2 separate regions of the Homo sapiens genome follow, and region 1 is linked to region 2. Evidence: fine-mapped expression QTL. A gene starts in region 2. The other region holds a variant in brackets. All regions are shown on one strand. Distances are from middle to middle.

Region 1 (16,212 bases), 34 kb after region 2:
AAAAAACATTCAAAAGACCAGTGAATCAGGAGCCGGTCTTTTGAAAAAAATAATAAAATAGATAGCCCACTAGCTAGACTAATAAAGAAGAAAAGAGAGAAGATTTAAATAAACACAATGAGAAATGAAAAGGGGAATGTTACCCCTGACCCCACAGAAATGCAAACAACTATCCAAGAATGTTATAAACACTTCTGGGCACATAAGCCATCAAATCTAGAAGAATTGGATAAATTCCTGGACACATACACCATCCCAAGACTGAACCAGGAAGAAACTGAATCCCTGAACAGACCAATAATGAGTTCTGAAATTGAGGCAGTAATAAATAGCCTACCAACCAAAAAAAGGCCAGGACAAAATGAATTCACAGCTGAATTCCACCAGATGTACAAAGAAGAACTGGTACCATTCCTACTGAAACTATTCTAAAAAATTGAAAAGGAGGAACTCCTCCCCAACTCATTCTACGAGGCCAGCATCATCCTGATACCAAAACTTGACAGAGATGGAAACAAACAAACAAACAAACAAAAACTTCAAGCCAATATCCTTGATGAACACTGATGCAAAAAATCCTCAACAAAATACTGACAAACTGAATCCAGCAGCACATCAAAAAGCTTATCCACCACAATCAAGAAGGCTTCATCCCCAGGAAGCAAGGTTGGTTCAACATATGCAAATCAATAAATGTGATTCATCACATAAACAGAACTAAAGACAAAAACCACATGATTATCCCCACAGATACAGAAAAGGCTTTTAATAAAATTCAACATCCATTCATGTTAAAAACTCTCAATAAACTAGGTATTAAAGGAACATACCTCAAAAATAATAACAGCCATATATGAGAAACCCACAGCCAACATCATACTGAATGGGCAAACGCTGGAAGCATTCTCCTTGAAAACCAGCACAAAACAAGGATGTCCTCTCTCACCACTCCTATTCAACATAGTATTGGAAGTTCTGGCCAGGGCAATCAGGCAAGAAAAATAAACAGCATTCAAATAGGAAGAGAGGAAGTCCAACTATCCCTATTTGCAGATAACAGGATCCTATATCTAGAAAACCCCATCATCTCAGCCCAAAAGCTTCTTAAGCAGATAAATAACTTTAGCAAAGTCTCAGGATACAAAACTGATGTGCAAAAATCACTATCATTCCTATACACCAAAAACAAACAAGTCAAGAGCCAAATCACGAACAAACTTTGATTCACAATTGCCACAAAAATAATAAAATACCTAGGAATACAGCTAACCAGGGAGGTGAAGATCTCTACAAGAAGAGCTACAAAATACTGCTCAAATAAATCAGAAATGACAAAAACAAATGGAAAAATATTTCATGCTCATAAACAAGAAGAATCAATATCATTAAGATGACCATACTGCCATTTATAGATTTAATTTTATAATGCAATTTATAGATTCAATGCTATTCCTGTCAAACTACAAATGACATTCTTCACAGAACTAGAAAAAAACTATTTTAAAATTCATATGGAACCAACAAAGAGCCTGAATTGCCAAGGCAATCTTAAGCAAAAAGAACAAAGCTGGAGGTGTCATGCTATCCAACTTCAAATTATATTACAGGGCTACAGTAACCAAAGCAGCATGGTACTGTTATAAAAACAGACACATAGACAGTGAAATAAAATAGAAAGCCCAGAAATAAGGCTACACACCTACAACCATCTGATCTTCAACAAAGCTGACAAAAACAAACAGTGGGGAAAGGATTCCCTTTTCAATAAATGGTGCTGGGATAACCATTCTACCCAACCATTCCATTACTGGGTATATACCCAAAGAAATATAAATCATTCTGTTATAAAGACATGTGCACACATATGTTTGTTGCAGCACTATTCACAAGAGCAAAGACATGGAGTCAACCTAAATGTCCATCAATGATAGACTGGAAAAATAAAATGTGATATATATACACCATGAAGTACTATGCAGCCATAAAAAAACGAGATCATGTCCTTTGCAAAGACATGGATGGAGCTGGAGGCCATTATTCTTAGCAAACTACAAGAACATAAAACCAAATACCACATGTTCTGATTTGTAAGTGGGAACAAAATGATGAGAACACATGGACACACAGAGGAGAACAGCACACACTCGGGCCTTTCAGAGGGTGGAGGGTGGGAGGATCAGGAAAAACAACCAATGAGTTCTAGGCTTAATACCTGGAGGACAGGAAGAATCAATATCATTTACCATTAAAAAGCCTATACTGCCCAAAGAAATTTATGGATTCAGTGCTATTCCCATTAAACTGTCATTGACATTCTTCACAGAACTAGTAAAAACTATTTTAAAATTCATATAGAACCAAAAAAAGAGCCTGAATAGCCAAGGCAACACTAAGCAAAAAGAACAAAGCTGGCGGCATCACACTACCTGACTTCAAACTATGCTACAGGCCTACAGTAACCAAAACAGCATGGTACTGGTACAAGAACAGACATAGACGAATTTAAACAAAGTTCAGTCTTGTTCTGGTCTTTTTATTCTTTTTTTTAACCTTTATTTTAAGTTCAGGGTTACAAGTGCAGATTTGTTACATAGGTAAACTTGTGTCATAGGGGTTTGTTGTACAGATTATTCAATCAACTGACTCATCAACCAACATTAAAAATTTAGAAGACTGAAGGGCAGTTCCAAAATGGCCAAATAGGAACAGCTCCAGTCTACAGCTCCCAGTGTGAGCAACAAAGAAGATGGGTGATTTCTGCATTTCCAACTGAGGTACTGGGTTCATCTCACTGGGGCTCGTCTGACAGTTGGGGAAGGACAGTGGGTGCAGCCCACTGAGTGTGAGCTGAAGCAGGGTGAGGAGGCATCGCCTCACCCAAGGAGAGCAAGGGGTCAGGGAATTCCCTTTCCTAGCCAAGGGAAGGGGTGACAAACGGCACCTGGAAAATCGGGTCACTCCCACCCTAATATTGCACTTTTCCAATGGTCTTAGCAAATGGCACACCAGGAGATTATATCCCGTACCTGGCTCGGAGGGTCCCACGCCCATGGAGCCTCACTCATTGCTAGCACAGCAGTCTGAGATTGAACTGCAAGGCAGCAGCGAGGCTCGGGGGAGGGGCGCCCACCATTGCTGAGGCTTCAGTAGGTAAACAAAGAGGCCAGGAAGCTCAAACTGGGTGGATCCCACTGCAGCTCAAGGAGGCCTGCCTCTGTAGACTCCACCTCTGGGGGCAGGGCATAGTCAAACAAAAGGCAGCAGAAACCTCTGCAGACTTAAATGTCCCTGTCTGACAGCTTTGAAGAGAGTAGTGGTTCTCCCAGCATGGAGTTTGAGATCTGAGAACAGAGAGACTGCCTCCTCAAGTGGGTCCCTGACCCTTGAGTAGCCTAACTGGGAGGCACCCCCCAGTAGGGGCAGATTGACACCTCACACAGCTGGGTACCCCTCTGAGACGAACCTTCCAGAGGAATGATCAGGAAGCAACATTTACTGTTCAGCAATATTTGCTGTTCTGCAGCCTCCGCTGCTGATACCCAGGCAAACAGGGTCTGGAGTGGACCTCCAGCAAACTCCAACAGACTTGCAGCTGAGGATCCTGACTGTAGAAGGAAAACTAACAAACAGAAAGGACATCCACACCAAAACCCCATCTGTATGTCACCATCATCAAAGACCAGAGGTAGATAAAACCACAAAGATGGGGGAAAAACAGAGCAGAAAAGCTGAAAATTCTAAAAATCAGAGCACATCTCCCCCTCCAAAGGAACACAGCTCCTCACCAGCAAAGGAATAAAGCTGGATGGAGAATGACTTTGATGAGTTGAGAGAAGAAGGCTTCAGACGATCAAACTTCTCCGAGCTAAAGGAGGAAGTTCAAACCCAATGCAAAGAAGCTGAAAACCTTGAAAAAAGATTAGACAAACGGCTAACTGGAATAACCGGTGTTGAGAAGTCCTTAAATGACCTGATGGAGCTGAAAACCATGGCATGAGAACTATGTGATGAATGCACAAGCTTCAGTAGCTGATTTGATCAACTGGAAGAAAGCATGTAACGTAAAAACATTACAAATTGTAAAGACTTATCAATGCTAGGAAGAAACTGCATCAACTAATGAGCAAAATAACCAGCTAACATCATAATGACAAGATCAAATTCACACATAACAATATTAACCTTAAATGTAAATGGGCTAAATGTTCCAATTAAAAGACACAGACTGGCAAGTTGGATAAAGAGTCAAGACCCATCAGTGTGCTGTATTCAGGAGACCCATCTCACTTGCAGAGACACACATAGACTCAAAATAAAGGGATGGAGAAAGATGTACCAAGCAAATGGAAAGCAAAAAAAGGCAGGGGTTGCAATCCTAGTCTCAGATAAAACAGACTTTAAACCAACAAAGATCAAAAGAGACAAAGAAGGCCATTACATAATGGTAAAGGGATCATTTCAACAAGAAGAGCTAAATATCTTAAATATATATGCACCCAATAAAGGAGCACCCAGATTCATAAAGCAAGTCCTTAGAGATCTACAAAGAGACTTAGACTCCCACACAATAATAATGAGAGGCTTTAACACCCCACTATCAACATTAAACAGATCAACAAGACAGAAAGTTAACAAGGATATCCAGGAATTGAACTCAGCTCTGCACTAAGCGGACCTAACAGACATCTACAGAACTCTCCACCCCAAATCAACAGAATATACATTTTTCTCAACACCACATTGCTCTTATTCCAAAATTGACCACATAGTTGGAAGTAAAGCATGCCTCAACAAATGTAAAAGAACAGAAATTATAACAAACTGTCTTTCAGACCACAGTGCAACCAAACTAGAACTCAGGATTAAGAAACTCACTCAAAACCAAACAACTACATGGAAACTGAACAACCTGCTCCTGAATGACTACTGGGTAAATAACGAAATGAAGGCAGAAATAAAGATGTTCTTTCAAACCAATGAGAACGAAGACACAACATATCAGAATCTCTGGGACACATTTAAATCAGTTTGTAGAGGGAAATTTATAGCACTAAATGCCCACAAGAGAAAGCAGGAAAGATCTAAAATTGACACCCTAGCATCACAATTAAAAGAACTAGAGAAGCAAGAGCAAACACGTTCAGAAGCTAGCAGAAGGCAAGAAATAACTAAGATCAGAGAAGAACTGAAGGAGATAGAAACACAAAAAACCCTTCAAGAAATCAATGAATCTAGGAGCTGGTTTTTTGAAAAGATCAACAAAATTGATAGACCACTAGCAAGACTTATAAAGAAGAAAATAGAGAAGAATCAAATAGATGCAATAAAAAATGATAAAGGGGATATCACCACCGATCCCACAGGAATACAAACTTCCATCAGAGACTACTATAAACACCTCTATGCAAATAAACTATAAAATCTAGAAGAAATGGATAAATTCCTGGACACATACACCCTCACAAGACTAAATCAGGAAGAAGTTGAATCCTTGAATAGACCAATAACAAGTTCAGAAATTGAGGCAATAATTAATAGCTTACCAATCAAAAAAAGTTCAGGACCAGACGGATTCACAGCCAAATTCTACCAGAGGTACAAGGAGGAGCTGGTACCATTCCTTCTGAAACTATTCCAATCAATAGAAAAAGAGGGAATCCTCCCTAACTCATGTTATGAGGCCAGCATCATCCTGATATCAAAGCCTGGCAGAGACACAACAAAAAAACAATTTTAGACCAATATCTCTGATGAACATCAATGCAAAAATCCTCAATAAAATACTGACAAACCAACTCCAGCAGCACATCAAAAAGCTTACCCACCATGATTAAGTGGGCTTCATCCCTGGGATGCAAGGCTGGTTCAACATACAAAAATCAATAAACATAATCCAGCATATAAACAGAACCAAAGACAAAAACCACATGATTATCTCTATAGATGCAGAAAAGGTCTTTGACAAAATTCAACAGCCATTCATGCTAAAAACTCTCAATAAATTACGTATTCATGGGACGTATCTCAAAATAATAAGAGCTATTTATGACAAACCCACAGCCAATATCTTACTGAATGGACAAAAACTGGAAGAATTCCCTTTGAAAACTGGCACAAGACAGGGATGCCCTCTCTCACCACTCCTATTCAACATAGTGTTGGAAGTTCTGCCCAGGGCAATCAGGTAGGAGAAAGAAATAAAGGGTATTCAATTAGGAAAAGAGGAAGTCAAATTGTCTCTGTTTGCAGATGACGTGATTACATATTTAGAAAACCCCATTGTCTCAGCCCAAAATCTCCTTAAGCTAATGAGCAACGTTAGCAAAGTCTCAGGATACAAAATCAATGTGCAAAAGTCACAAGCGTTCCTATACACCAATAACAGACAAATAGAGAGTCAAATCATGAGTGAACTCCCATTCACAATTGCTTCAAAGAGAATAAAATATCTAGGAATCCAACTCACAACAGATGTGAAGGACCTCTTCAAGGAGAACTACAAACCACTGCTCAATGAAATAAAAGAGGATACAAACAAATGGAAGAACATTCCATGCTCATGGATAGGAAGAATCAATATTGTGAAAATGGCCATACTGCCCAAGGTAATTTATAGATTCAATGCCATCCCCATCAAGCTACCAATGACTTTCTTCACAGAATTGGAAAAAACTACTTTAAAGTTCATATGGAACCAAAAAAGAGCCTGCATTGCCAAGACGGTCCTAAGCCAAAAAAAAAAAGCTGGAGGCATCACGCTACCTGACTTCAAACTATACTACAAGGCTACAGTAACCAAAACAGCATGGTACTGGTACCAAAACAGAGATAAAGACTAATGGGACAGAACAGAGGCCTCAGAAATAATACGACACATCTACAACCATCTGATCTTTGATGAATGTGACAAAAACAAGAAATGGGAAAGGATTCCCTGTTTAATAAATGGTGCTGGGAAAACTGGCTAGTCATATGTAGAAAGCTGAAACTGGATCCCTTCCTTACACCTTATACAAAAATTAATTCAAGATGGATTAAAGACTTAAATGTTAGACCTAAAACCATGAAAACTCTAGAAGAAAACCTAGGCAATACCATTCAGGACATAGGCATGGGCAAGGACTTCATGACTAAAACACCAAAAGCAATGGCATCAAAAGCCAAAATTGACAAATGGGATTTAATTAAACTAAAGAGCTGCACAGCAAAAGAAACTACCATCAGAGTGAACAGGCAACCTACAGAATGGGAGAAAATTTTTGCAACCTACTCATCTGACAAAGGGCTAATATTCAGAATCTACAATGAACTCAAACAAATTTACAAGAAAAAAAAACCCCATCAAAAAGTGGGCAAAGGATATGAACAGACACTTCTCAAAAGAAGACATTTATGCAGCCAAAAGACACATGAAAAAATGCTTATCATCACTGGCCATCAGAGAAATGCAAATCAAAACCACAATGAGATATCATCTCACACCAGTTAGAATGGCGATCATTAGAAAGTCAGGAAACAACAGGTGCTGGAGAGGATGTGGAGAAATAGGAACACTTTTGCACTGTTGGTGGGACTGTAAACTAGTTCAACCATTGTGGAAGACAGTGTGGCGATTCCCCAAGGATCTAAAATTAGAGATACCATTTGACCCAGCCATCCCATTACTGCGTATATACACAAAGGATTATAAATCATGCTGCTATAAAGACACATGCACACGTATGTTTATTGCGGCACTATTCACAATAGCAAAGACTTGGAACCAGCCCAAATGTCCATCAATGATAGACCGGATTAAGAAAATGTGGCACATATACACCATGGAATACTATGCAGCCATAAAAAAAGGATGAGTTCAGGTCATTTGTAGGGACATGGATGAAGCTGGAAACCATCATTCTCAGCAAACTATTGCAAGGACAGAAAACCAAACACCGCATATTCTCACTCATAGGTGGGAATTGAACAATGAGAACACTTGGACACAGGAAGGGGAACATCACACACAGGGGCCTGTTGTGCGGTGGGGGGAGGGGGAAGGGAAAGCATTAGGAGATATACCTAATGTAAATGACGAGTTAATGGGTGCAGCACACCAACATGGCTCATGTATACATATGTAACAAACCTGCATGTTGTGCACATGTACCCTAGAACTTAAAGTATAATAAAAAAAATTACAAAAAAAAGAATATAGTTTGGGATTATCTAGTGTAACTAGCAATTCAAATATATGATTGTATTTTCTATAATATTTACATCAAAGCCTTAATTTTAAACTTATTTGCACATATTTCTGTAACATAACTAATGCACTGAATATTCCCATTCATATTGTCCTTATGTGGTATTATGGTTAACAACTTAAGTCCTTCATATTTCCTACTGGAGTATATATAGTCTGTGAACGATCTATGCATCTGGAATTTTTGTAATTCTCAATGTGATTTGCTTATACCTAGTAGAATAAGTTGAATGTGGTATAAATTTATAAACTAATTCATTCATTAATTAAAAATAATAAAGAAGATACTTGGTAACTTCTCAAAAAAAAATTTAGAAGATTATGCTTTTGTTGATAATCTCTTCTCAGCCTGCAGCCTTTTTATCAAATACTTGCTATAGCAGTTGTGTTCTTAGCATATCAAACTTATGTTTATTAAGCCTTGCAAAAATGTAAAATGTGCTTCATTATTTATCCTGTAATAGTCATCAAAATTATTTCTAAATATCATTTATATACCAGGTCCCTAGTGAGGTAGTTTAACTAAAATACTGTTTTATTTGTCTTCATATTGATTTGCTCACATTGAGCCCACTTATTGTTAAATTTATTTATAAGGACCCTTCATATATTAAAGATATTGTCTTTGGGGGGAAATGCTTTCAATGTAAGTGACAAGCATTTTGCCATATGTCTTTGGATATTGCCTATGGTATTTTCTACCTTACAAAAGTCTTCTATGCTCTAACTTATTGATAGTTTCCTTTATGCCTTCCTCTCTTAAACATTATTTTTAATTTACCATCTCATTTAGTGTATATAATTATTTCATTTCCTAATAGAAAAAAGGGTGGGAGGGGAAGGTTGTATGTGTGTGTGTGTATGTGTGTGTGTTGTTTGGTCACTTTTTGGAAAAAGTATATCATATCTAGATTTCTACTTGAATTGATTCTCAATGGAAAATTAGTGAATACTGAATCAATCGATAACACTTGCTGTGTTCCAGCTTGACCATAGCAATTACTGTGTTTCCCTCATTAATGAATGTGGTCGTTCATTTTGAAATTCCTACTACTTTGCCTGCTGTGACTTCGTTTATTTTGTAAAATCATCCTGACTAGTTAAACAATTTAATTGCTTTCAGCATGATGAGATTATTTCTTGTAATGTATCTGTTTCTATTGTAAAACAATGATAACATATTTGGCTTTGGGGCACAGTACTGTATCACAGTAGTGTATCTGAGATGTTCAAATATAAATGGAAGTGTTCCATTATAAGGCCTCCCATCCTCAATTGATCATTTTTCCTTCTTTATTCAACAGTATTTATTTTCTTCCCTCCCTTCCTGCCTCCACCTTTCCTCTGGTCTTTATTACCTGGTCCTTCTCTGGTATTTTTCCCTTAACTTGGCCTACATATTTACCCGTTTTCTCCCTATAATACTGGTAGGCTCATATAGTCCTCACCTTCCTCTGTGCAAGGCAAGGGTACCTACGAGCCTGGAGCTGAAAACCTTCCTTTGGCAGTCATTACTGTTGAAAGGATTTCCACATGTGCAAATCTTTCAGGACAAGTAATTGCGGACAATGTGAGTGATCTGTCTTGAGTCCAGCGACATCACAGGGACCACCCCATGTGGCACTTTCCTCATCCCACCCATAACATTTGAACTTAGTTAAAATGAACATCAAAGCCTGCTCTAAAGAAGAAAAGAAAAAGGAGTCATAAAAGGGCAGTGTAAGGCCTGGAGACAAAGTTGAGATAGGGACAGTGTATGACCAGGCAGCCAGCACCAGCAGTGCTGGGACATCCCTATTTGCCAAGTCCTCAAGGTATTTTCCTGATTACTCCATATGTGAGGATCCTGCACTTAAGGCAATTCTCATCCATTCCAGTCACTTCATAGCTGACGTGGAGAGGAGTAAAGGAAAAGGAAGTTGAAGTACTATTGTGTGACTTAACTCAATAATGATGGTTTAGAAAACGTATCTTCATATTTATGAAAGGAAGATTTAACATGCAAAATATATTCTGATTTAAAGTTGAGATAGAGGAAGACAAAACAAATTTCCCTCAATCTCACCTTTGCCACCACCATCATTCCACCAAGAAGAGGCCCTAGAGCAGCCCTCTGAAGTATTTACATTTAAGTTGCTTAGGAAAAGGCAGTATTCCAGGTGCCCCAACCCTTATTACAGCCCCAGCTCTGAGTTGAGGGGTACTTTGCTTTCCTTGCCAACTGCCCTTAAGCTCATTCATTTTAAGGACCTAGTGGGAGGGATGGCTGTAATCTGAGGTGAGATTTACATTTTCTTGAGAACTTCGGACTTAATATCATTATATAGCACCCCAATATCCTTCCCAAGCCCAATTTTCAAAGCTGCCATAGTTTCACTATGGGTGTTAGCAGATACATTTACCAAATTAGCTAAGCCATTACTGGACAGAAGTCAAGGCCTGAAGGGTGGTGGGCTACAAGGGAGGGATCCAGTGAAATTCTGCCAAATCCTGATGTCAAGTGCCAAGGGCTGGGGATGGTTGGATAGCTTGGGAAAACTTGATATTGAGAACATTTTTCAAAGGAATGTAAAAGGGAATAAATGGGAAGAGCTTGAAACAAATCTGCTTTGCACTTATGTCTACAGAGCAGTGTTTCTCAGACTACCTGTGGGAAAGACCAATGTGTTTGGAGTTTTAGTTTGTTAATTTGTTTGTTTTTAGTTTCAGCCCATTGTGAACTGATACGTTTATACAACACAAATAAATAGAAAAAAGTAATTAAATAAAAAACAAAGGCATACAAAATACACACCCAATTTTTATTAGATTGGACAAATTTTATTTCATTAATAAAATAAATTAATACAGTGCCATGTTAAGTCGCTGTTACAGTTTCTAAACTCTGGCTCTCAATTTCTGTCCCCATCTTGCTCCAAATCGGTAACAAAGAGGTTCGGAGACTGGCACAGGTCTGCGGGCCATGCTTTGATTGGCATGGCTCTAGGGGGTGTGGCTTATAAATCTGACAGAGCAGGTGTCTGGGCTGTTGAAGAAAGGCAGTCCAAGGGATAGAACCACACGAGGCCTTTGGAGCAGTGGCACAGCTGTTCTATAAGGGTCTCCTGAAACACAGGAGAAGCAGAAACAAAACATCTCTAAGAGCAGCAAGAAAGACAGCTAAACACAGCAAAGAAGAGCCACAAGGCTATGACGTGTGAAGCCAGCCCTCCTCTGAGCACAGCCTTGCACTTGCTCAGTCCGGTACAGTTGCTGTAAAGCCATCCAAAGCAAACATGGCCCTCCCTGCAGCAGACTCAACAGAACAAAAACCAACACCCAGAAATAAATTAGATCGCCGAGCTCATCATGTTACACAGCCCACTGTTCTCAAATCCAGAATCGTGAATATAATAACAAATGATACTATTAACTGGCAAATCGGTCTAAAGCCAAAACCAAATAACTCATTACTATTAACCAACATGATTCTCAGAATTTTCTAGGTCAGCTACAAGAAAGAGTTATGAGACTCTTCCCAACTGAACTAAATCTCACCCATGTCTAATTACACGCAGTGTGTATGGCTAAATCCTTTTTCTCTTCTGCACAGCTAGCTTGTGTCTCAGAGCCCCTAAACCCCCAGGGACTTCTCAAAGGAGGCAGGCATGTAG[C/T]CAGGTTGAAAGGAACATAGAGCCGGGAGCCAGCACATAGGAGCTTAAGGGCCACCTGCTAGCTCGGTAATCTCAAGCAAGTCCCTGAATTTCAGTTTATTTATCCATAAAACAAGACTAATGACAACCACTTCCCTGGAAATACAGCTAAAAACGTTCAGCAATTTGTACAACGCTATGTGGACATTAATCCTTACTACTCAGAAATAAGCAGCTGAGAGATGTTTGTAACCATTCCCATTTCCCCCGCCACACACACACACACACACACACACAAAGCTTCGTCCTTTACAATTTATTTCTTCCTTAGAGTTTGGATCACTTCTACCTGTCACACACCATCTTCCTTACGATCCCAGCATCACTGGGATGTAGCAGGGAACTGACGCCATCCTGTCTGCCTTCCAATGTGGAACAATGGCACACAGTAGAGCATCCAAGGTACATCAACAGTGACAAAGATGACTTGAAAATTCACAGGGACATTTGAGTGGGAGTAATAAGTTTGGTTTATTAAGCTTGTGGCTTTTCTTAATCTGGCTCCTCCTTATCTCACCTTCTGCTCTGACAGGAAGTCACTGCTCTGCGTTGGTTTTGTTCATTCTGTTTAACATGTAGAAAGCTTTACTGTTGCCACACACCTGTACAAGGAAAGCAGGTTTTTTATAAAATTCTGTGTTCTGGGAGGGTACTCATTCACATACAACTTAACATACAGGGAGGTCAGGCAGGTGATTTGGTCTAGGTCATAAGCTGTGTTGCCTTGGGCAAATTACTTAGCCTCTTGGAACTTATTTCTTCCATTGTAACATAAGTTGTCCTGCTTTCCTCAAAGACATAGACATGAAACCATAAATGATCATATAAAAAGAATTTTGGAAATAAGGTATTTTACTTATATATTATTAAGTTATAATGAATAATACATAATTATAGTATTATTTTTTATTATTCCTACTCTTTGTGCTAGAAAACAATTTGAAAGGAGTCTCTTGCAATCTGCCGAGCATAATAGCTCTGGATTTTAATTCTCCTTTCTAAAATGAATGGAAGATAAAATGCATACCTCTTAAAAGAAAGATCTGTTGATTTAATGCAAATTTTGATCAGTGTTACTAGGAAGTGATTGGCATTCTGATGCGTGATCTGTTTGTATTCATTTTATATTTGCACTGCTGATCAGTGTCTGGCACAAACAGAATCTTGTAGAATCTTGAGTCTAATACCTTTTGTATTGAAGGCCTGGCAATGCATTGTCATCTGTTCCTGGGAAGAATTACAAAATGCAGTCCTTTATTTTTAAAAGACATTATTATTAAGTCCCTGGAAAAACACATGGCCATTTTCAATTAAAAATGAGTAAAAGAGAGACTCTGAATCAAAAATAGTTGCCAATGTTCACCTTTAACAACATTATGAAATCTCACAAAAATGTAACTAAAATTTAACCAAATTTGGGCAAACTTAGAGAAACGACATGAGTAGGGATGTTTGCTGCAAAACATATGGTTTTCTCTGGTTGGTGCTCAGGCTTTAGCTAAGCCACATTGTGAAGTAACCATAATCTGTGCAAGGTCCATGTCTCTCTTCATCATAAATCTATGTCCAAATGAAAAAGAGAGAAGAATGAAATATGATAGGCACCATTTTGTGCCAGGAAAAATAGTAAGTATTGCTTGAGAGCAATGGACATCTTTGAACTCTGTCTGCAACTTCATTACATTCTTATGGCATGGATATTTTTCATTTATAAATATTATATACACATATAGTATAAATTTTCTTTATAGCATAAGTACTCTGATACAGGTATTAGAGATGGTATCTCCAGATATGAGTTCTTTATGGCATACATACCTCTCCCAAAAAAGTGCTAAAAGCAATTAGCCGGATGTGGTGGTGGGCGCCTGTAGTCCCAGCTACTCGGGAGGCTGAGGCAGGAGAATGGCGTGAACCCAGGAGGCAGAGCTTGCAGTGAGCCGAGATCGCGCCACTGCACTCCAGCCTGGGCGACAGAGAGAGACTCCGTCTCAAAACAAAACAAAACAAAAAAGTGCTAAAAGCACAGACCTGAAAGTCCCCAAACTGATACATAACGTTTACACCTAGGTGTGAAAAAAAATCTTACCCCTAGAGCACCTGTGGTGAGAAAGTCAAAACTTACAAGAACAAAACTCAGTCTTCAGAATCTTCTTCCTTCATCACAGGATCAACACATTTCATCTGGGCTTCTTAAATCTAAATCTTTAAAATGACTAAGTTTTCTTCCTTTTCTCTGTTTTTCCTAATAGTTGGGGCTTATATGACTCATGTGTGTAAGTATCTCCTATATCTACATGTAAACATTAAATGAATTTCTACTGACTATATTGTTATATTATAGATGAAAATTATTTTCACAATCATTCCTATCTTTCTGAACTGTAATGTATTATACAAATTTTTCATCAGTAAAATTATTGTAGCTTTTAGGTAGGGTTATTGTTGTTTTTTAAGCTTTGAAAATAATATAGTGACTGTCATTGGAAGAATTACATGAAACAGTAGTTTAGATCTTTTGTGTGAAACCTTTTGGTCTACTTTTGTAGGTTTCAATATGGAAATTATTGGAGGGAAAGAAGTGTCACCTCATTCCAGGCCATTTATGGCCTCCATCCAGTATGGCGGACATCACGTTTGTGGAGGTGTTCTGATTGATCCACAGTGGGTGCTGACAGCAGCCCACTGCCAATATCGGTGAGTCCTCCACACTTTTCCAGACATGTGTTTTTTCTGAAAGTTATTATAGGTACAAGAGAAGCTTACCTCTCCTGAATGAGAATTTGATCTACTGTTAGCTTCTGTGGTTACTGACCAACTGGTGGCGTTTATTTACCTTCTTCCACATCCACGCTTTCTGTCTTGGGTTTTCCTTTTCAGAGAGAACTGAGCTGCTTTTCCCAGGCAAGACATTAGACAAATTCAAGTCCTCTGTATAATGCAGGGAACACAGCAACAGTAATACTTGAAGCAGCAGTACTCTTGACCTTGTTAGATCACACTGCTCAAAAGGAAATCAGACAACCTGAGCTTGCTCTGTGCTCTGAGCTTCCCCATTTTACAAAGGGGTAATAATCATATCATACCTGCTTTGTGGGTTTTGAGAATTAAATAGTATCTGTTTAAGTATTTTAGCATGCTTGGCACATTTAGTAAGCACAAAAAAATTGCAGCTATTATCATTAGTATTATACGCATGAGAAGCCTACTTTGCCACTCCTAACAGTAGCTACCTAACAGTAGCTACTCACCACTTACAACTTTCCTAGGTGGAAAAAAACAAGTTATTGATGACTTCTAGAAAGAGAAAGATAATGAGAGAGTTATTTTCTAGGATACTTAGAATGAAAGCTTTTCTGAAGACAGAGTAAAACCTTCCAAAGTCCATTTCAGCCTAGGATTCTCTTACTTCAGCTAATAAAGCACAAAACCCCTCTTGGGATGCTGCAACCATCACAAAAGGAAATGCCAGTAGAAAACTAATTTGGTATTTGTTGTTTTGTTTGTTTGCTTGGGTTTTTGGTTTTGTTTTTTGTTTGTATATATGTTTCCTTATGTTTCTTACCTAATAAGCTGAAATGGAGCCTTCTCCTTTTCTTTCACTTAAAGATCTCTCTTAGCTGTAATGGTTTGCTCTCCAGGCATTGTCTATATCTAAACAGAACAATTGAATTGATTTGCTTTTCTATGCTTTGGGGGTTTTGTCTGATTACCCCATTTAAATGGAACTGTTTGATCACAAATTGGAAGTTTTGAAGCCTGCAAACTGGGAGATCTTCTGCTATCTCTAAATAGCAAGCCACTGATTTCCAATTTAATATGGTTACTTCATTTACACAGGGTTCTTGCCCTCATAGAAATCACACTCTCATCCCCATCACTTCTCTCTTCTCCAGGGCATTTGCCCCCTCGAGATCAGAGAGACAGAGTGGGGAACTGTCAGCGAATGTTCATTTGATGCAAAATATGCACATCTTCAAATATGCTCATAATACACATTCAAATGGTCTATAACCTCCCCAGACACAGAGCTTGACTTCTAAATGTTCAACAAACTTTGGATGGAAAGAAAGAAATACACTGAAAGATCTTTCTTTCTTTCTTTCTTTCTTTGGCTAGGCCTGAAACATGGTGTATGAAAAAGTGCTTCACTAGCCATAAAGTGTTATAGGAAATTAAATAATATCACTAAGTTGAATTTTAAATTTTGTCAAGTGGATTTAACTCACGAGAAGCGGATTCCCAAATTGGGGAAAGAGATTATTGACAAAAGAC
Region 2 (16,212 bases):
ACAGGAAATGACAACCTGGTCTGACTATGAGAATTACCTTACTGTTTTTGCTACCACTGGTGATATCCCCAATGCCTGAGGGAGAAGCACTTCCTGTCTTTGTTGTCTTGAACAGCCCTATTTGTCAGATTCACTAACTGTGTAGGCCCCCAACATTTTCAATCACCTCACAACCCAACAGGATGGATAAGTAGCTGGGCAGATGGGGATCTGACAGGTGAAAGGGAAGGAAAGCCTGTCTTCTTCTTGAGCAGCTGCTGCTCTGGTGAAGACACAGGGCCTGTTACAAGCTTTATTTATTAATTCCTTCACCCATCCATCCTTTTATTCATTCACTCATCCATCCATCCCTTCATTCATTCATCCATCCTTCCACCAACCATCCCTTCAGTCATCCATTCATCCAATAGCCATCCATCCCTCTTCCCATCCATCTTTCCTACCTTCATCTATCTACCTATCCACCCATTCATTCATCCAATCATCCATTCATTCCAGAAATATTTATTATGCCTCAGCTTAGTTTCTCTCCAATATCAAATGAGATTAGGCCCATTGATCTATGGAATTTTCTTGTTTCCCAAGTGTTTTCTGGAATGGTACATTGAAGTGTGGGAAGAAAATTTCAAAACTTCTATTTATATCTCTTATCTCTTCATTTTAATAATGTCTAGTTGGAGTGTATGTTTTATAATGAACGCAATATATTAATACGATAGTGTGTATATAGTTTGAAATTACATGCTCAAAAAAATTTTGCACTAGCAAAGTGTGCAGTCAGGGGTGTACAGATCCAAAGATTTTGGAGACCACGGCTATGAAGATTAGTGGTAAGACTACAGAGCAATTTGGGATAGACAGGTACTAGCTTTTGGGGTGAAAACCATGAAGAGCCCCCAGCACCATAAAGCTGGGCAGCTAGAAAACATGCCTGCCACTCAGAGCAAATGGGCCCACTTTCATCTGATTTTATTGCCCATGATTGCACAGGTGGTTACTGCAGCACCAGAAACAGAGGCCAGTCCTGCTCCAGTCTAGCTCTTTTTCCACACTTCCTCAAAGAAGCATTTGGACTGTGGCCCGGGCTTCAAACCAAGAGGGCAGATCTTTAAATAACCTCACTCCCTACCAGAGTAGCCTCAAACTTTCTTGCCCATAGGTGAAAATAGAGATTTTCAGTTAATGAAAATGTAAATATCTGACATTCATGTAACTTTGTATCTCATTCACACCCAATTTCTATCATCTTACAAAATATATCAATTCGAGCAAACAGGATTTTTTCTTATATAGACTTTTTTTAGCATTTTTATCGATTCACCTAAAATGTTTCCATAATTTGCCCACAAGGCAGAATGAACATAGACTGTTCTTGAATATGATACTCAAGCTTCAAAGCTGTAAAATACTCTCTTCTTTCATAGGTACTGAAAGGTTTGTCTTTGGCTATGTTTTCTAAAAGCAACCCCCTTCAAAAATATTAGAAAATAAATGAAAATAAAATGCTAGTATTAATTATGAATGAGAAACTTAAACTGATAAAAGTAAAAATTGTTCGACATTTTTAGAGCTGTAATCTTCAGTAAAACAGCTAACAACTGATTGAGAGTTAATTATAAGGGGTTTCCCCATAGAACATGGAAGAGTGCAAAGGAGTACTCAGTAGCTGTTTAATAGCAAAGTTTCTACCATTGAAAATGACAAAATCCAGGAAGAGAACACAAAACAAAGAAGAAAAAATGCTCTAAGTCTAGGACCTCAAGAGCCATACAGGTAGCAAAATAGAAATGGTTATTTCAAGCCTGAGCTCTGCATCTAACTAATGATGTCAACAGAAGTGTTTACCTTGTGTTGTTGTTTTGCAGAATGAGTTAATATATTGGGACCTACTTTTAGGAAACTCTAAAAAATGAGTAGACCAAAAATGTGAGGCAGAGAAGCAAATATCCTGACCCCCTGTTTTGATAGAAGAGGCTTATCCAGAGCAGAAAATTCTGTTGAAGAGCTTGTCCTTTAATATGAATGAGAGTTCTTATTTATTGAATGAATTGTTAAAATAACATTTAGCAATTTAACAAAATCACAAATCAACACAGAGAAGCTGTATCTTGTTCTTTTTTATTGAACAATAATAAACATGTCCTTTTAAAACAAAACCTAACAGCTTATGCAGCTTTACATTCAAAGGCCTTCCCACACACATTCACAACTCTGTTGGCCAACTTCAAGAATAAAATACAGGTAAATACTGAAATAATTCTTAAATAAGTTCTTCACTTCAAATAAAATACTTCTGAGATATTTCCTAAGAACATCTAGTACAACAGTCCTGTTTGTGCTAAGATTCTTTCAAATATACTCCTAATTCCACTTATCAACCAAGTTTAAAAGAAAAAAATATGAAAATAAACTATATTTTAAAGTTGACATGTTTTCTGCTGAAAATTGATTCTTCTTTTACAAACCTCCTAAAAACTTATTTTCTACCTTAAATTGAAAATTCACCTAAGTCACAGCACTTATGTTTAAATAAGGACCCTCTGTTGCTCATTTTTTGACATTTTTGAAATCCAGAGTGACTCTGTTTTTCTTATGCTTATTAAGGTTATTATTACTATAATTATGGATAATAAATTTATCATGCCTCAGATGTTTGAAAACCTTATAGAGTCATAGTTTTATTCTAACCATTTTCAACAAATAATACTAGATTTCTTTCCTCAAGAGGATGATAAATATGGGTAGGGAAGATGACTTGCACTAACACATTTATTTATAAAAATATATAAATATTTACCTTCATACACACACAAACCACCAGTGGGTAAAATACTTCTTAGATTTATCTCTGAGGTGGCATACGTTAAAGCTATTTATGGAAGTGTATGTGTTTCCTATGCCCCAGAACCGTCCTTCAGATACAGGTAACCCGGGAACTACATCAGCAGCCTTTTGAAATTGCTCTCAGTTCAAAGCTGTTTGTTACTCAAATTTCCATAAGCTTCAAACATCTTACTTCCTTCAGGGGTTTTCTGGTTGTTTTATTTTGACTTTTCCCAAAGCCAAAAAAAAAAAAAAAAGCACAATTAAATTCTAGAGAAGCTACCTACCAAGGAAGGGCTAAATATTTTATTTCCCACTCCCACCCCCTCCCCATCTTCTCCTGCTCTTAAGTCTTCATTCCATATCCCAACATTAATGTACATCAAAGTCAAAGAACTAATTTGACTCACTGCGGTCTTCAGCTTTGCCTAGCTCCCTCTTTGGTTGACCTGTCTCCACGTAAGATTACCTAAATTGCATTTTTAGTTCTTCAGTGTTACTATACACACACATTTAACAAATCTACATGCATTCGAATATTTAACAAACACATACAAGTGTTCAGTCATATGGATGTTATGGATTGTAAGTATCCTACTTTTTGTTTTCTGGATCCACCATGCATCACATTTGGTCTTCAAAAATTACATGTCCTTATGCTATAATCTAGAAAGTTCCTAAAATGTTGGCTGTGTGTTGAACAATCACGAAAATAGAGCCTTCTCTCAGAAATCACAGCCGGGATCAGCGTGGATTTAACCATTTCCTCATTACGGGAGACCCGGCAGCATTCTCTTTCACAACTTCTTCTCTCACAATATTGCCATCTCCAGATGCCATGTCATGCTCTGAAAGTAGACGGAATACAAATCATGTCCAAACATCTATAGCTCAAAGACAACACAGTTTTGCTTTATTTTTGTTTTACATGGAATTTACAATGAAATCTTTAATCAATTTAAGATTCCATGCTAACTGTATTCACTGCTCTATATCAGTGAGCACCTCTATATACAATAGCACCCCTTGAATTACTTATCTTTGTATACCTATCGTCACCTGACATTATCTTCTACATGTATTTGTCTTTTTTTCCTGTGTATTATTTCACTCCACCACTAGAATTCCAGTTTCACAAAGGTAGGGACTTTATTTTGCTCACTGCTATATCTCCAGCACTTAGGACAGTGCTTGCCACATAGTAGGCACTTAATAAATACTTATGGAATAGGCAAATGTTGTACAAACAGGTCTCAAGTTAGATTCTTACACTAACTGGTATGAAAGACAGATTAACTTTTGCTGCATCCAGAAGGCAAAAGGCAGACCAATGGGTAGAACGTTCATAAAGACACTTCTCACTCTACATATGAGAAAAGTTTGTAATATTTGAAATTTGCTAAAATGAAATTTTCTACTTCAAGGAGTAGTGAGGTGTGCTTGCTTTGGCAGTGCACATTCTGATGTGGAATGCTTTAAGAAGATTAGCGTGGCCCAGCAGACGAATGTGTGTAAGTCCATGAAACATTCCAGATCTTACTCCCCCAAGACCCTCGTACACAAAAACTTACTTGTGAATTCCCAACTTGGGAAGCTCACTGCCAAAAAAAAGAACACCAAGTGGAACACTGTGGACAGGAAGCACATTTGACAAGAGTGCTGTAGCCAGCAGGTGGAAAGTTGGAGAAGACAAGCTCGTGCTCTGGGGGTCCTAGTGCTGGTGAAGCTTGCAGCCATTTAGCCTGCTCTCAAAGGCTGGGCCCAAACAGGTTTGTGCAGAGGTGATGTGAAGCCTGTGTCAGGAGTGAAGCCCAAGCCTTCTCCTGTAAACTCCAGTGCATGAACCTGGAAGTCTCATGTAGTCTCAAAGACACATGTAGACTACAAAGAACCCTAGGCAGCCTCCCCAAGAGGTCCTTAGGGTTTTCTGCTCTCCATCCTGAACCTGACTAAGGTTTACCAAGATCACACTAAAAATCATCTTTTGCTGGTTGCACCTTTAGCTAATGAAAGGAAATACCCTAGGTCAGAAAAGAGAGAAACTGACTGCTTTTTTCAAATATTTCTGATAAGAATCTCAATGCCTAACTTTGATGTGGAAATATTTTTGTGTAACCTATAATGTAAGTATTGTTATGGGCATCACCATACTTAAAACTAATAATTCACTTAAAAGCACGATATTTCCGCTTCATTTTAATGTGTTTAGTTGACCCATACATAAGAAGGAGGTAAAATTAGAAAACAAGCACCTTTGCCAAATAGTTTATATTTTATTAACTTGAAATGCAAAAGACCAAAAGCAAAAACTAAATAAAATGGACTTGAATTGTTATTTATAGTTGTGGTGGGAAAAAGTATATCATTTGTTGATACTAGCCATCTCTGTGACTATATGTTGGGCTTATTATTTATTTATTTTTTATAATTTTAAATACAGTTTTTAATTGACAAATAATAATTGTATACATTTAGGGTACAATATGATACTTTGATATATATCTCCACTGTGGAATGATGAACTCAAACTAAGTAGCATATCCATCACCTCATATACTTATTTTTTGTGATGGGAACATTTAAAATTTATTATTTTACCAATTTTGAAATATATAAGAATTATTAACTACAATCGCCATTCTGTGCAATGGAGGCCTAAGCTTTAGTGATGTATGTTGCTTTAAATGAGCTACTTTCAGTTTAATGGAACTCTCCTGTACTGGCCAGCTATTCAACAAAATAAACAAATATGTACATAGCACCATCTCATAGGTTGTGTATTCCTCACATTCTAACACCTGTATAAGAAATACACACGGACTAACAAGCAGCACGTATTACTACAGTTTCATTCATTTCCAAAATTTCAATCACATACTATTTCTTATCCTCTCCAAAATCCATAAAAACACACACTTGGAATTATTACACTTAAATGCTTTCATTTGGTTAAAAAAAAGAAACGTTCTATATTTTCTATCTTGACTCTTAAAGCTTATCCAATAAATTCCTCACAGTACTTTTTCTATGTGAAGTTGGGAGATAAATAGTTTTGTCTAGTAAATATATAAAACAGATCACTGAAGAATTTAAAGAACTTTGTGTATCTCAGTTGGTTATTTTTTATTACAGATTTTTGGTAATCAATCATATTTATCCTCCTATAAATCATATTTAAACCAGGTAAACTTTATGAGAAATTATATGTAAACCTCAAAATTATTGATGGGCTCTTTTTAGAAAACAGCAACAGCAACCAAACTCAGCTACCACCCACCGTTCCCCTGAGTAAAGCAAAGGAAATAAAATCATTCCAATCCACATCTTATTCTACTCACAGATATTTTCTAAGTTATTCACACTGAAATGAGACTATTCTTCCAATGCTTATACCAGAATCAGTGCTTACCCGTGAGAGAAACAAATCTGTTGGAAGACTTGGTTACTGAATATTGGAAGAAGGGGAATTTCAGGCATTTTCCCGTCCCCCTGTCACAGATGCCTGACTGGCAGTTGCAGGTCTCTCTGCAATCCATCCCGAAGGTGCCGTAGGGACAGTCTGGGGACAAAGGAAAGGTTGGAGAGGACGCTGCTTGTTGTAAATACGTCTCCATCCTAACAGCCCTGGGTGCATAGCCTTGCGATTTGAACCAACCTCATGAACCTTGACTGTAAAGTAAAATCCAATTCTCCAAACCCAGGATTTGAAAGTTGAAACTTTGAGTCATAAATATGAAATCACACATTAAGAACAGATAATGGATGCCTCGGGCTTAGTGTTGTGATGTAAAGTTAAGTTGAAGACAGCTACACACAGCCAGTCTCCTTGGACCAGTCTTCATTCTGGTGATGTTCTGCTTAGATACCAATAAATTCTCACAGATGACCTCTGTAACAGCTCAGCAAAGGTGGGAAATTGAACAGACATATATGCATCAGCTCCTCAAAGAGTTTTTAAAATGTGATGCTATCTTTGAATCTACTGTATTCACAGATAATTTACTATTTTAAGTGTATAGGAAAGGGCTTCAAACTAACCAGGGAGAGAGCTATCATCCTAGCTCACCATGAAGCAATCAATCTTCCATCTGCTCCAACCCTTATCAAGTTCCTTATTTGTCGAAACGGCATGTCATACAACTTGCCTGACTCCCTCAGTAGTTAAGAGGGCTCCCTAGTAAAATCCTCTGCAAGGCTAACATGCAAGATGCTAAATGAGCAAGAAAGCTCAGGGCTTATACACCCTGAGGGTTTGTACACCTACCAAGAACTAGAAGCTTTTAGACCTCCAGTGCTTACACTTATGCCAAAACATCCTACATTGAAATAAAGAGGACAAAGTCGTTTATTTAAAATGCATAAAATTATTTAAAATGCTGTTTTTAGGATAAACAGCATCTCAGTAGACTAACCAACCTTTAAAAGCCAGCAGAATAGATATAGAATATTCTCTTGTTGTGAAAATACCTTGTAAATGTACAATCACAGGTGGGTAAAGAACAAATTGTGAGCCATCTGAGTCTCTAGCAGTCTAATACTCCACTAACTGACCAAGTAGATCATCAATGAGCTATCTTTTTTTAAAGAGATCTATGAGTGCTCTTTTCAATATGGTTCAGATCACAGAGGAACCTGGTTTTGAACACTGTTCTCTTTGCTGGGAAGAAGAGATCTTAAAAAGGGATCCTGCAAAGGCCTGTTCCAGAAAAGCACACAGGATTAGGATTTGACTGTGCCTGCAGCGATATTGAAAACTAAAACTTTAGCCAAATTCCCAGAGATACTTCTAGTGTATCCCCTGATGTACTGAACAGTGCTGGGCAGATAGTAAGTGTTCATTAAATATGTGTTGGCTGCTGATTGTTAATCTGGGCAAGATGTTCACAGACATCTGAATATTTAGAAGACATTTGGATACGCAGCTGAAGTTTACAGTTTTCACGTGGATGTTCTTTTAAAAAGCTGAAGAAGGGAGATGATTGCCAAATGTATTATCTCTATCTCGAGTTGCTAAGGCTCACAAAGTCTCCTATTTCCAGCAGAGAGAAAAATGCTTAAAACTAGATTCATCAGCAACCTGAAGAAAGCCAAAAGAAGCAATCTTAAAGATCTTTTTAGTATCTTGATCATTCAGTAGAATACTACAGTGCTAAAGACTCCAGATGCCACACAGCTTGTTTCTTTGCCCATATGTAATGTACATTTACAATCACATGTACAAAGGCATATTATGCCAAGAGAAAAAGCAATCCACTGCATATACATGCTATATCATAAGTATGATTGTGTTAACCACTTCCTCCCTAATTTCCTTATGTGAAGTACTGTTTTCTTGGTCAATAAGCCCCATAATTTACAAAATATACAGATCCTATTCAGTTGAAAGAAACATGCATATGTGTTCACCAAACAAAATATTTTCTCAATATTCTATTTCTTATTGTATATAAACAAAAATAAACTAAGCAAAAAATAAAACTCTCCTAATACTTTAAGAATTTGTTTTTTTAATTTTGTATGTCTTGCAAATTAAAAGATGATTAATTTATACATTATATGTCTAAGAAGTAGGAGAATTAATGAGATTAGCACAATACTGGATAAATATTATTCATAAAAAATGTATTAAATACATAAAACATAATAATTATTTAGAAATTTCTCAGTCCTTTTTATAATTTTGAAAGCTTCCTGGTATTACACAACTGATGGATGGGGTTATAGCATGTGTTGCTTCTTAATAATAGCTCTTCATAATAAGATCATGAGATATCTATACGTAGAGTATTTTTAAATCATCATTCTTTTTATTCTAAACATTTTTAAAATGTTAAATATTTTAAACTAGTTACTATGTTTAAAATAAATTCTACAAATGCTTAACTACATTATTTAGCTAAAATTTCAACCGACGAAGTTTTTCTTTAAGTGTACAAGTGGTCAACCTCATTCTTTACAGACTTCCAGTTTTTATTTTTCTCTATTGTTATTTTTCCTTGTCTTAACACCATCTGCTATTTTTCCAGATGACCAAAACCTTTATAAAGTCAGATGAGGTTTGTTTTATGCTTCAGGGGACCCTCTTTGAAGAGTGAGTTATTTTGTTAGATGACTTAAGCTCACTCTATTCCATAAAGTGCATTTGTGTTTATCAGAAATATTTGATCTTGAGAGTGGCCCTCCATCCTGTGGACCCTTTCAAGATCAAAGAATCACTAAATCTGGGGGCTAGAAACCATTCCAAGAGGTTATCTAGTGCAGACCTTTGTAATCGCTGCCTCGCAGAGGAGAGAGCACCTAAGCCATCCTTAACAGATTACCTGTCAAGTTTCTAAAGTTTTCCAGAAAAGGAGCCAACACAATCTTCCATTGCAGCTTTCTTTTTGCGATCTCCTAAGGCAACGAGTAAAATGCCACACTTCTTTCTGTGCCTTCCTGCACACTGGTTTCAGTTGCTACTTGGAGCTATCCTTCAGTCTCTACCCATGACAATACCTGTGTGGTGCCTTGTCAAGAATCCACCTGCCTTTTCCCTCTTACTCTTGAGGAGCAAAGCCACCTCACCTCCCAAGCTGGCTAAAAGCTCTCAGCATGCCCCGGGAGGGGAGAGGTAAGGGGTCACTCTTTACCTTTGCAGATACCAAACTCTTCACCAAAAGGATCCTCCCCATTAGAAGGCTGACACCTCAGCCCCGGGCCACACTTCATGCCATCCATGCCTGAGACTGTGCGGTAGCAAGTTTCTCCCCGCCCTGCAGCGCACACTCGGCAGCAGCCACAGTCGTCGAGCACTGTCCTCTTGCAGCGCGGGCTGCTTTTGCACTCACTGCTGTCACAGTGTTGAGGGCAGTCCACCGCATAATTATTGCTCCAGGCGGCCACCAGGTGTGCAGGCACGAGGAGCGTGGTCAGCAGCAAGACGCTCTTCATGTTTCCCAGCTGCCTCCGGCTCGGCTCTCCAGTCGTGGTCTTTGCTGGTGGGAAGCAGCCGTCCAAACTGGTAGCTGAGCCTCTGCCTACACGTTTATGAGTTTTATACACTGGGTTGCCCGCATGCTTTCCCGTCATCAATTTCCTCAACCCAGCAGCAGCGCTGTCCTCCTGCCAGGCTCTCTTGTTTTGGTTTATGAAATCCAGGATGAAGGCTGGATTAACACGCTGCTGCCATCCAGGAATTGAAAAGCCCAAGCTGATGTCATCTGTTATGTTTAGATGGTTGTTTTGCATGAGGACTGAAAAACTCACTCACATCCGTCTCAAGGGCTCAAGGACGTCTGTGAAGGAGGGATAAAGAAGGTTGCACACCCTCCTTCAGGACGGGAATTGTTCTGACCCTGGCATATCACTTGAGGTGTAGCTTTGTCTCAGAGCCTCTGTAGTCAGGAGGAAAATGATATCAACATGAATCATCAGGACCGAAGAAGCTTCTTCAAAAAAAATAATAAACATTTGGTATTTCCCCTCAACAAATAGCTATGAGATCATTTGAAAGAAGAAAGGGTTATATTGTGTCTTTTCAATACTTAGAAGAAAGAAAATATTTTGATAGGGCTATTTTTTAAGACCCTCTCTTCCTTCCTCTCACCCCTCTCCTCAAATGTTATTTCTAAAGCAATTCATGTTACATATATCTAAGCCTATTGTGGATATAGCTGTGCTTCCAGTACAATGTGGAACTGCCTCTGAGAATTTCTTTTAAAATCAATACAAAAAGCCACAAGAGAGGTAAGATCCTTTCGGCACTGCTTCTGGGTTACTCAATTCTGGAAAAACTTATCAGTTGGACTTCTGATCCAAAACTTCCTCAGGGGAAGGCTCATCCATCACTAAGTCTGCTTGTCCAATGACGGAGTCCACCCAGAGCCCTTCCCCTCACCTCCTGGCATCTATCAGAGCCCTCACTAAAAACTGCCAAGCGCGGCAGCCAGCCCAAGGCAACAAGTGGCTCAGCAGGAAAATCAGAACACAGCCCCCAAGAAACAAGTCACAGGGAAGGGAAACATTACCCCTCAGGAAACAAGGTCTGCATGCTAAGAGGGTTACCGTGCCTAGGTCCCTCTGGGAAAACAGAGTAGCCCTCTTAAAATATCAACTGTGCCAGGGTCTTATTAAGTAAGGTTAAAGAGGAGAGAGGGGAGTTCTTACACCAACCACATGCCGAATTCCATGCCCCCACCTCACTTGTCAAAAGAGATATAGACTCACTGTCACTTAGTAAATAACAACCCAGTAAAGTGGGTAATTCTTGGTCTGTCACAAATGAGCTGTAAGAAATTCACAGGACTTCTCTTGGCCTCAGCTTCCTCTTTTGAGAATTGATGGTGTTAGGCTACCTGACCTCTAAAATTCTTGTTTCCCATAGAAGATGAGGCAGAGCGGGCATTGGATGTAACTTGAAGATCGGCTTTTGCAAATGCAATTTTAGGGGGACACAGGGAGTAAATTCAGAATACAGAGAATTGAGGCAGTAGGAAATGAAAGCAAGAGTTTTAGCTTTCAAATTTTCCAAATTTTTCATGACAATCCAATTTGAAATACTCTATCTCCCCAGAAGCACTTACTTAGCAGGTGGCACACTCTGATGTTTTCAGTAATGGGTAATATTTGTTGAGTTAATAGCTTAAACACTTTACATGCATTAACTCATTTGCACCTCATCACAATATTATGAAGTGGCTGCTATTATCATGCTTATTTTTTAAAAGAAGAAACTGAGTAAGAAAGAGGTTAATTTGCCTAAGGTCCCTATATTGAAGGGATGGATGTTAGTCTAATGTCAGAGCCACATATTCTATTGCCTATTACAATACATAATTGTGCTTTCATGGCCAATAGTTCCAATGGCCTAGGTCGCAATTTAGGCTGACCCTAGAAAATGTCCCTTGTTACTGAACACCACTTTCTGAGGAGTAGTTAACTGGAATAGTGGTTAATAATAATATCTAACCTTTACAGAGATCTGACTGTGTGCCAGATGCCATGCTAAGCAGTTTATGTAGATTACCACATTTAACTTTCAAAACAACCTCAAGAGCTAGGTGCTATTCTTATCCCCATCTTAGATATGAGAAAACTGAGGCCTAGAGAGGGTAAGTAACTTGTCCATCATCACACAGTTAGCAAATGGTGAAGCCAGGACTCCAGCCCTGAGACCAACAAGCTCTGGAGACTGGATTAAGGATTGTAAAATCAAATACATACAGGTGCCAAACAGGTGCCCAAGGTGGGTGACATGGTAAGCTATACTAGATGTAATACAGAAGGAATGGAGTGGATTTCGTCCTCCTGAATAGCACATAAAGACATGAAACTCTTCCACTATGGAAGATAAAGGGAAACCAAATTGATAATACCTTCAGTAAATGACAACTAAACAAATGTAAGTTGAGAGTACCAAATCCAAATAGTAAACCAAACTACAATGCACAGGTAAGTGCAGAAAATATGCCCAATAGAGTTCACCAGTGGTGGAACTATCTCAATACACAGTGCCTAACAACTCATTTTAGGGGAACCTTCAATCCCTCCAAGACCCAACAAAAACCATTTGTCCCAACACAATCCCTGTAAGATTTTTATCTAGTGATTTCTGTCTTCCCCAGAGCCTTGAGCCCAGATCAATGAATTCCATTAGGAAAGTTAGCAATGACCACAAAGGGTTAGGAAATGGGAGCACGAGCAACCAAGGAGCCAACTCTAAGCTGCATTAAAAAGCAATAAGATGATGGCAGAGCTGTTGATAGTGAGTGCATGAGGTCCACCCATTTCACTTGCTTTGTGCTGGGGACTGGAACATCTCTCATCTTGCTCTGCCTGTATATCAGTTGTCAAGTCAGAGTGAGAAAGGGCAAGAGGAATTGCACAAGATTTTCACAACTCCTAAAATGTAAGTTCAAACTAAGGTGGGTCAAACCATACCATCTGTGGATCCAAATGTTGCAGCATATGGTGTTTTGCAATGGGGGCAGAGAAATGATAAAACCAAATATCTATTTAACCCAGTATACCCTGTATACTTAAAATGCCACTTTGATTTTTTTCTTAAAGCTGGTATTGTGTTAGGAAAATAAGCTTTGGTAATGTGCATTAATATTTTGTGTTTATTTTGTACATTATGATTGCTTCTAACCAAATAACAAGGATTTTTTTCTGGATAGGTAAAAGTAGTCCAGTGGAAAGGCTCTGGGCAGATCCCAGACTCTCAGAAGGTGGTTTATGGTAAAGCGAATTATACCGTACTTACTGTGCCTTCCTAACAAACCAGCTCTACCAGAGAAGTCTGGTTTAAATTGAATTACAAAGGCAGACTTGAGGGCATAAAGTTTGGAGGAGCAAGTGGAGACATTTACATGCAGATTTTAGGTGATTTGGTTTTTAGGTTAGTTTTGGTTGTGGTTTTTGATACCATCTGAAAGTCTTCCTGCTTTGACACTAGCTGATAGCAATTTTGCATGTGCCTACTGCAAGGTCTAGCCCACAGCAGGAGCTTAATACTTAATAAACACATAAAAGGAACCAACTGTTTCCCAGAATCATCTTCAGATGATAGTAAGTTAAACGGGCATCAATGTGTTCCCTTTCTTTCTCTTTCCACCAGGAGAAGCAAAGTGAGGCCCAGATTCTAGGGCAGGCTAGGTTAAGCTGCAGAATGTGTTTACTTGTGGGAATGAGGTAGAGGTGTCAAGAAACAGCACATCCAATCCAAGAGACATCGAGGATTGGATGGAGCCTGAGCAAAGACTGTAGTCCCATTGCGGCAGTTCCTTCACAGCTAACCAAATTTGTCCTGTTGACCTTGGGCTTGGCAATATCACATCCACCCTGGAAAGTTCATGGGAGCCCCTCATAGCCAATAGAACTTGGTGAAATACTTCTGCCAAACTGGCTGGGATTCACGGCAGTCACAGGTCAGCTGTCAAAGCCCAGGGCCTGAGGAATCTTCCCAGAGCCTCCTGCCCTGAGTACAGTTTGCCTAGAAACAGCTTTACCACTGCCAAGATATGTGATCTTAGGCAAGTCACATGCCACATACCTTAGACCTCTCCTTTCTCCTCAGTACCTCAATAATAAGAGGGCCAAACAGGGCAACAGATATGAAACCATCGTGACTATTATTATCAAGCGTCTGATTTCTGAAGATTGGCTTCATTCTTTAAATGTGATCTTATGTCTTGGAGCAAATATTTTCCCAAAAGAAATCTCTCTAATTCTTTAAGTTTCTATTTTTAATAAAGACAATTTTAATAGCAAAGTGGAATTGAATGTACCAATATATGATTTACAGGCAATTTTCAAAAACTACACCTGCTTAGAAGAGCAAAGTGAAATGCATCTGCTTTAATTAGGCTTCTTGCCCATATGGGGGCTCTCTGATTTGTCTTGATGAGCAGGTCAACCTCGTAGGCAGCTGGGGTGCCATCACACAGAGCTCTGCAGGAGCCCTGAGTGTGAGGGTGTGTGAGTGACTGCAAGAAGATAAGGACAGGACACCCGCAGTGTCTGCTACAAACCCAGAATGTCTGGGCACCTCTCAGAGAACTTGGCACTATATCCAGATTTTTACTCCAATGGAGCCTCTGAGGAAGCAGCCACAGAGTCAGGTTGTTTTTTAACCCTGTTCAAATCTAGAAACTTCAACTTTGGGTTCACGCTGCTAGGAACTTTTTTAGAGCCAGGAAGTCTGGCTTGGAAACATGAAGAGCTCTTACTCACTGAGGTGCCTTCTTCTCCTCTTTGCCCCCAGTTCTGGCAGTTTCTAATGTGGGGCATCAAGGCAAGCTTTTCTTTCTAACAGCTAGCTCCTTCTCAAATCAGGTTCTGAATCTCGGACTCCATCAGCAAGAGATTCCTGTTTCACACAGCATCCCTCTAGCTGCAAATATGAACCCACATCCAGAAGCACCATGTGCCACCCTGACATGAGAAGCAATGTGAGTAGCAAAAGTAGCTCTGAACTCAGGACCAGAAGACGTAGGTTGGCATCCCAGTTTCATAATCAGCTATGGGTAAGGCACCAACCAGCCTCCTCATTAACATTAAGTCATTTTCTTTTAATAAAATATAAGGGAGAGAAATGCCTTCCCTTTCTCAAAGAGATGTTGAGATCAAAGGAGAATGTGGATTAAAAACATGATGCCAACTAAATTACTGTACAGGTGTAAAACATTATTACTTACTCTATAAGACAAATTAAACCATGAGAGAAAATAAACCAGTGGCTCTCTCAGGTCTCACGCATTCCTCCATTCCTCTCACATTCTGCAAGATGGTCTAGTTTCTCATTCACTTAATTCACAGCAAACCATGATGACTGAGTTTCAACATTCTTCCTTAGGAAAACTCCACCACCCCTCCTAGCAGCCTGCCTCGCCCCATCCAAGCATGGGATGACTAAACAGCTCACTAAACTTCTCTGCTAAAAGAGTTTTTAAAAGTGTCACCAGTTTCCTACATGACTAAAGAATTACTGTAGGCATTGGAAGTCATTTAGACACTAGAACTAGAGAACATAGATTTTTAAAGTCATATTAGAAGTTATTGCTAAGATATTTGGAATTTCCACTAGGAATTTTAGAAAGATAGAATTTCTGATTAACACAAGAATCATAGGAAATGATTCTGCTACTTTGCTTCTCTAATGACATGAAATTTCCTTTGCCTAACCTTAAACTGACCCCTTTTATAATGTAATAAAATGTTAATCAGGACCACCCTCACCAAACTCATCAGTTTGTCCAGTGATAAATGGCCTTAGCCGTTTATATGACATGTGAGTTGAATAAATGATTGAATGTTCAAAAAAAAGTTAACCACTAGATGAAGAGAAATAAGAAACATAACTTCCAAGCCCCTTATTTAGGACATTTTCAGGATTTGGCAGTTTCAGACTCACTCTAATTTGGCGTCAAAATATTTTGGCTTCTTTCTTCCTAGGCAGTTCCTGATGAAGCCTTTTTTTTTTTTTTTTTTTGGCTGCCACGGACTTCATGAAGTCTCCAAGCCTGTGATCTGAGAGCTTAGTGCAGCACAGCTGAGGGTGCCTGTGACGGGTCTCAGCAAGTGTGTCTCAAAACAATTCTCCACACCACCTGCATGAGAGTGTCCTGGGAAGTTTGTCAGAAATGCCACAGCCAGGGATTCCAATCTGATGGGTTGGGGTAGGTCTGGGAGTTAACATTCTTAACAAATAAGCCAGTTGATTCTGACAAACCCAAAAATTTGAGGAACCTCTAAACTAACAGTTTTTCCCAGTCACATCTCTTCAGGTTAGTGAATTAGTACTTAACGTTACTCTGAAGACTTCTGACAGAAAAAGTCTGTCTCTGAGGGATTGACCTAGGATTTTTATTTATATTACGCTCATGAATTTTTAGCTTATTTCACTAATAC

The links.
Region 1: its variant is fine-mapped to the expression of ESM1 in whole blood (TOPMed, PIP above 0.99).

The regions. Positions count from the first base shown.
Region 1 is chr5:55,010,174-55,026,385 of GRCh38, forward strand. GZMK (granzyme K) reads left to right here and starts at 14,083. Exons shown (of 5, transcript NM_002104.3): 1 at 14,083-14,213; 2 at 14,487-14,634. The coding sequence starts at 14,150. LOC102467081 (a long non-coding RNA gene) reads right to left here and starts at 13,996. Exons shown (of 3, transcript NR_104662.1): 1 at 13,756-13,996; 2 at 12,455-12,539; 3 at 11,126-11,349. The variant C/T (reference allele first, on the strand shown) is at 11,899.
Region 2 is chr5:54,975,765-54,991,976 of GRCh38, forward strand. It overlaps ESM1 (endothelial cell specific molecule 1), which reads right to left and starts at 9,829. Exons shown (of 3, transcript NM_007036.5): 1 at 9,453-9,829; 2 at 6,233-6,382; 3 at 2,103-3,671. The coding sequence starts at 9,753. The coding sequence ends at 3,568.